Homo sapiens: one gene and its partner. The protein of the gene in region 1 purifies or fractionates together with the protein of each later gene. This does not show direct contact. Each region holds a gene or a part of one and is shown on either strand. Other genes may lie near its edges.

Region 1 (3,500 bases):
GCAAAGCCCCAGAACTCAGCGTGGTTTTCCCTTTGATCTGTGTGGTGATAACTTGAGTCCTGGACTGCAGGCCCCATGACAGCAGGGCCTCACCAGCACTTAGCACAGTGCCTGGCACACAGTAGGTCCTCATTACTGAGATGTTGAGTGGATGCGCACATGCACGAAGGATTGAGTAAATGAATGAATGAGTCAGTCCAGGAGAAACTCCTTACCAAAGTCTTTCTGGCCTCTGTCTCCCAGCTTGTCCCCACCCCACACCTGCCCCCAGAAGAAGTGCCTGCCTCTTCTGAGCCCTTCTCCAAGCATGGCAGGCAGGCCGGACTCGTGCCAGGCCCCAGCATGTCAGGGCCCCACATGCCTTCCTGCTCCCTCAGCTCTGCTCCCTGAGGGCCTCACTCGTCTGCCACCCCTGCCACCCCTGCCACCCCTGAGCTTGCAGGAAGGCTTCTTAAATAAATGCAATGTGTGAACTGAAGGGACACGTGGATTAGTTCAATCAGGCATAAGCAAAACACAAATACCTGCCGCCTCTCGTCTGGTGTATGGAGGCCGAGTCTGAGCCCAGGGTCTTTAGGGGAGTCCTGGGTGCCCACCTTTGAGACTGAGGGTGTTCTGAGCCTTTGGCATTTCCCCAAGGGGCCTTGGTCTGGGACCAGGATGGACCTCCCACTGCAGTGACTAGCAGACACCCCATTAGGCTTGGGTGATGACCCCAAGGGGCAATCGTGCGAAATCAGGTGTCAGGAAGGGCTCCAGCTTGGGCGTGGTGAGAGAAGGAGCAGTGGCTCCCAGCACATGCTGCCAGGCTCCTCCCATCAGGGTGGATGGAATTCGCCAAGGGAGCCCATCTTTACAGCACCCCCCAGGCTGGCACTGGGGCACCATGCCTGCCCCTGAAAAGCCTTTTGATATGTCCCTGACGGAGCCTGCAGCCCCCTCCCACCTTTGCAGCAGAAAGACCCACAAGTCGGCCTGGACTAATCCCTTTTCTAAACAAAGAAAGAGGCCCTGCCTGGCCCACCATACTCTCTTCCTGTTTGCTTTGGATTCAGACCATAGGCCCAGCTGGCTGGAATCTTTACTCTTCTGGACAAGGCCTCTGGTCTTCCAAGTTGGTGCAGCAGGTAGCCCAAAGTTGGCTCTATAATGAGAGGTCCCTGCTCTAGGCACCAGGCCAACCCAGGCTGGGGGCACAGAGACAGCCATGCTCTGCAGCCCCCACCTTCAGGAACACACAAAAGGGCTTCCCTCGTCCAGTCCCCTGCCACAGCCCAGGCCTGGCCACCTCCACACCCCATCGGGCAGTGGCGGCTATGCTACCCTCCCCTGTCACCCAACCCCACCAGCACACGTCAGCAGAGGGCTCTGCCTAAGAGTGTGGGTGGGACTCTCCCATTCAAACCTGGTGCCCAACCTGCAGAGTGAAACCTTAACTCTGGCTTGGGCCTTAATACCTTCTGTGAACTTGACCCTCTGGCCTGTCCTCTTTCTACTGCCCACTGTGGCTCCAGCTGCCAGCGTCTCCCCAGATCATCGGGGCTTTTTCATACCTCTGTGACTTTGCTCATTCTGTTCCCACTGCCAGGAATGCCTTTCCTCTCCCTCTTGTCAAACTCCTACTCATCCTTCAAAACCCAACTCAATGTCACTGCCTTATCATGCACACCAGCCCCCACTCCCCTCTGCGCTTCCCCAGTCTCCAGTTCCCACCTCTATCACAGCACTTAGGAAAATGCCACTGAGGCTGAGCGCGGTGGCTCATGCCTGTAATCCCAGCACTTTAGGAGGCTGAGGTGGGCAGATCACGAGGTCAGGAGTTGGAGACCAGCCTGGCCAACATGGTGAAACCTCGTCTCTAATAAAAATACAAAAAATTAGCTGGGCATGGTAGCAGGTGCCCGTAATCCCAGCTACTCAGGAGGCTGAGGCAGGAGAATCGCTTGAACTCGGGAGGCAGAGGTTGCAGTGAGCCGAGATTGTGCCACTGTACTCCAGCCTGGGGGACGGTGTAAGACTCTGTCTCAAAAAATAAATAAATAAATAAATAAATAAATAAAAATACAAAATTAGCTGGACGTGGTGGCGCACGCCTGTAGTCCCAGCTACTTGGGGGGCTGAGGCGGAAGAATCGCTCGAACCCAAGAGGTGGAGGTTGCAGTGGGCGGAGATCGTGCCACTACACTCCAGTCTGGACGACAACAGAACGAGACTCTGTTTCAAAAAAGAAAAAAAAAAAAGAAAAAGAAAAATGCTACCAGTGTGTTCAAAAGCCTGCTGCTGCACCCAAGCACCTCAAAGGAAGGCCTGGTGGCATCGTATGCCCCTCCATGCCCAGCACAAGGCAGGAGCCCAATACATGTTGGCCAAATGAATGACAACACCCACAGTCCTTGCCGTGACCTACAGGGCCTGTGTGATCCAGCCCCCAGTGATTCTCTGGCCTCATCTCAAACGCTCTCCCCTGTCACTTCTGTGCTCCACCCCAGTGGCCTCTTTCAGTTCAAATCCAACCTGCTTTTCCCCGCTTCATTCTCCCTTCCTCCCTACACACAAGCTGATCCTTGGGCCTGGAAAGCTTCCTGCCTTTGCTTCATCCACTCCCCACTTGCCCTGGAGACACAAGTCAGTGGTGCTGCCCCCAGGCAGCCCTCCAAGTGCCTCCATGAGGGTAGCACCAGGTGTGCCGTATCCTCTACACCTGGCGTGCAGTGGGAGGGCAACACGTGCTTGTGGAATGGGGCATCAGTGCAAGAATGAGAGACAGCAGTTAAGGATGGAACTTCAGAGCCTTGATCCTCGGGACAGGTTCCACCCTCTCTACCCGACATTCCTTCCTGGGCTTCTGGGCTGTGCACAAACCACCTTCGTGATCCACCTTTGTGATTATTTACTTCGTATTTTTCTTTAAATCAATTCACTTTCTTAGCCTCCTTCTGAGCGATAAAATCATGGTTGGATGTGTTAATTTATATTAACAATTCATGACTATTGGTTTAAAAATTGTTCCTGGGCCGGGCGTGTTGGCTCATGCTTGTAATCCCTGCACTTCGGGAGGCTGAGGCGGACGGATCACGAGGTCAGCAGATCGAGACCATCCTGGCTAACACGGTGAAACCTCATCTCTACTAAAAATACAAAAAATTAGCCGGGCGTGGTGGTGGGCGCCTGTAATCCCAACTACTCGGGAGGCTGAGGCAGGAGAATGGCATGAACCCGGGAGGCGGAGGTTGCAGTGGGCCGAAATCGTGCCACTGCACTCCAGCCTGGGCGACAGAGTGAGACTCCATCTCAAGTAAAAAAAAAAAAAAAAAGAAAAAAAGAAAAAATTGTTCCTCTAGGTAGCTCCTAAAAGGATCCTGTCCAGTTGCACCCGCTTTGGGAACTGCTGCTCCACCCTGTATGATGTTGGGGTTGCTGGCCCTGCGGGTTGTCTTTGGTGCAGGCTCTTTCTGCCAGTGAGCAAAATGCATGTGTTCCTTTCGCTGTGAATTTCTTGA
Region 2 (3,500 bases), on another chromosome or scaffold:
ATTTTTAGTAGAGACGGTGTTTCACATGTTGGCCAGACTGGTTTTGAACTCCTGACCTCAGGTGATCCACACACCCACTTGGCCTCCAAAGTGCTGGAATTACAGGCGTGAGCCACTGCACCCGGCCTCATTTGATTTTGAATGTATCCAACACAAAGAAATGATCAATGTTTGAGGTGATGGATATGCTAATTACTCTGATTTGACCACTATACATTGTATGTATGAAAACATCACTATGTACCCCATAAGTATATATAATTATTATGTGTCAATTACAAAATAATTTTTTTTTTAAATCTCCCATTTTAACAAGGTTGGTACCTGGCTTGAACAAGGCCCACATGTGGTCCTTCTGTTCCAATTCCCAACATTAGAGCCACTTTTCCAACAAAATTCTTCTGTAAATTAAATCGGCGCTGCCCAATATTAAAGCTTCCATCAATCAGAAATGCAATGTCTGCTTTACAATCTGCGAACAACCAAACCAGTCCCCTCATTAGCAGTCTCAAGAGGAGGGAGGGAAAATGCTACCTTCCCAAATGGAGATCTTGATTCTTACCTTTATTGCCAGTTTTCTTCTCGGGTGTTTTCTTTAGTCGTTTACCTGAAATAAAAGATGCACTTGGCATTAACAAAAGGAAGACAGTTACATAGCAAGAAACCCACATGGGGAGAAGCTCATAACAACAGAGTGCCATTCTTGAAAGGACTTTTTTAAAAAAATTAATTTCCTCAGGATTTTCTGGACTAGGGAAAGCAATGACCCAACAAATAAACAAATCAGTATGTAGGCCTACATATTTGATATGCCCTAATCCAGGACTTTAATACCCCAAACCCACAGGTGAGGCAGGAACTCAACATTAAATCCTAATGTTCTTAATATCTTTGACTTTAAAACTGCCATCGTCATACAAAAGGGGATCCCTGGCTATTTCTTACAATAGACACACATTCCTTTTAGTCACATGACAGTGCAGTAATTAAAGGAATTTAATGAAGCAAATGGAACTAGAAGTTCATGGTACTTTGACCAGTTCTTAGGCGTGGTTTATCAAATCTGGGAGAAAATAGGACTTTTAGAGAATTATTAGGCTGGGTGCAGTGGCTCATGCCTGTAATCCCTGAACTTTGGGAGGCTGAAGTGGGAGGACTGCCTGAGGTCAGGAGTTCAAAACCAGCCTGGGCATCATAGCTAGACCTGTCTAAAAAAATAAAAATAAAAAAAATTAAAAATCAAAAAAATTGGCTGGGTGTGGTGGCATGTGCCTGTAGTACCACCTACTCAGGAGGCCAAGGTGAGAAGATTGCTTGAGCCTAGGAGGTTAAGGCTGCAGTGAGCTATGATTGCACCACTGTACTCCAGCCTGAGCAACAGAGTGAGACCCTGTCTTTAAAATATACACATAATGAATGTTTCCATATGTAATATACCAGTAAACTTAAGGTATTTGCTTTGTTTCTCTTTAATATCAAATTTCTTTAAGAAAAGCTTCTACCAACAACACGTTTATTCATAACTTCCAAATGCTGTGCCGGGCAACTAGGAGATAGGTTTCATAGTTCATACCTGTTGGTGGATGTGCTGTGGACACTGCTTGTCCTGTGGCCTCCTGTGTACTACTTTTGCCTTCTGTTAAAATAAAAATAAGCTTATTTTTTTCCTTTTCCTTCTTTACCAAAGTATTATGAATCTAATTTAGAGCTCTCTACAATGACAAATGTAATAGGGTAATGGTGATTGTAGTTACAAACATCCTGCTGCATGCTAGTTTCAGAGAACCAAAATGCTTATCCATTATATCTTCAAAGGATCATCAAAAATGTATTTAGTAGTTTTTCAGTTCCTTGGTAAGTGTCCGGGCATTCTGACTGCAAATAATTCAAGTTTCTATTGCCATCATCTGTCAGTAAGATTGTCTTCTATTCACCCAAATTTGGCTTCAGTGGGTACTTGACCCCTCAGTCTAACCTACAGTTTACCTCTATAGGTCAGCTTTAGTCTTGATCACAGGTTTTTCCATCAAGGTTAAAGAGGCTGAGCTAAAAAAAGCAGAAAACGTTTGGGGGGTGGGAGAATATTACAGAATGAGAACAATAATTATACCTACTAGTTACTGTGAAAGAAGCAGACCATCTAGAAAGCATTTGAGACTGGATGCCATTGGCATCTACTGAGGAATAGTTTTCTCGACCAGGTAGGCTATAGACTCGTACAGGTCCCCCTGAGTTGCTGATTACTCCCCTGTAACACAAGAATAGCAGCTGAGATGCTATCCACACTTTTTCAGGGCATCCCACTGACTTATAGTGCCATGTTGTATCTATTGCTTTGATTAATCAAGAAAATAGCTCATCAGGGAAGTCATCTAAAGATTCTGCTTTATTTATTTATTTATTTGATGGCGTCTCGCTCTGTAGCCCAGGATGGAGTGCAGTGGCGCGATCTCGGCTCACTGCAACCTCCACCTCCAGGATTCAAGTGATTCTCCTGCCTCAGCCTCCCAAGTAGCTGGGATTACAGGCATGCACCACCATACCTGGCTAATTTTTGTATTTTTAGTAGAGACAGGGTTTCACCATGTTGGCTAGGTCTCGAACTCCTGACCTCAAGTGGTCCATCCGCCTCAGCCTCCCAAAGTGGTGGGATTACAGGTGTGAGCCACCACTCCCAGCTGCTGCTAGCCTTTTAAAAACTTGCTTACACAAGAACAAAATTTGCCTGGAAAAAAATGGTTTTGTGCTGTTGAACTTCTTAAGTGTTGATAAGAACACATTTGTAATATCCCATTACCCACAACTTAGAAATTCAGAGCACCAAACAATTTTCCTAAGATACTCACTTTAGCTACATGCCTTTGGACTGAATTTTTTTAGAAGTATTATACTGGCTATTCTACTACAGGATAGCATGGCACTTGCTAACAATAGTCACCTTGGGCAAGATACTTGACAACTCTCTGAGTTCAGTTTCTTCATCTGTAACTGGAGTAAAATTCTACCTACCTTGTAGAGTTGTGGTGGAAGTTAAAACAATAGGTGGCACATAGTAATAACTCAGTAATATATCACATGATTAGGAATGTTTTGGAATCATAGCAATCTAGCCATCAAGAGGTAATGCTATTTGCCTTTTGTCAGAAAGCTTTCCATGTGTATTTGGTGTTTCAAGTATATCCAGGAGAACCGTGAAAATATATCCATTTTCTGTGGCCACAATGGCAACAAAAGAAAGAATGCAGGGAGGAAAGGGATCCAGATGGGTAAAGCAGGAAAGGAAATAATCACGTCTGCATTTCTCTCCCACCCTGGTGTGTTTGGGCTTACCTGTGGACAGCAGCCCCACATATGCTCGATACAGAAGCATATACTATGTTCCCATACACAGAGAATTCCTCAAGAGGGCAGCCCCCTGGGCAGAGGACATCTGCTTTCTCTTTCCTGATGTCCAAGCCTCTGGTAAAACATGTGATAGCAATGGGAGCTGAAGAAAAAGG

Evidence for each region. The genes of interacting proteins can lie anywhere in the genome.
Region 2: the proteins of ANPEP (region 1) and COCH purify together in Homo sapiens (affinity purification with mass spectrometry, with the first as the bait; one large-scale study listed by BioGRID). This does not show direct contact.

Annotation. Positions count from the first base shown.
Region 1 is NC_000015.10:89,808,353-89,811,852, forward strand, and holds part of ANPEP (aminopeptidase N precursor), read right to left. Parts: intron 1-3,500. UniProt on the Homo sapiens protein: Broad specificity aminopeptidase which plays a role in the final digestion of peptides generated from hydrolysis of proteins by gastric and pancreatic proteases.
Region 2 is NC_000014.9:30,877,559-30,881,058, reverse strand, and holds part of COCH (cochlin isoform b precursor), read right to left. Parts: intron 3,488-3,500; coding exon 3,331-3,487; intron 2,249-3,330; coding exon 2,115-2,248; intron 1,637-2,114; coding exon 1,574-1,636; intron 608-1,573; coding exon 563-607; intron 473-562; coding exon 325-472; intron 1-324. UniProt on the Homo sapiens protein: Plays a role in the control of cell shape and motility in the trabecular meshwork.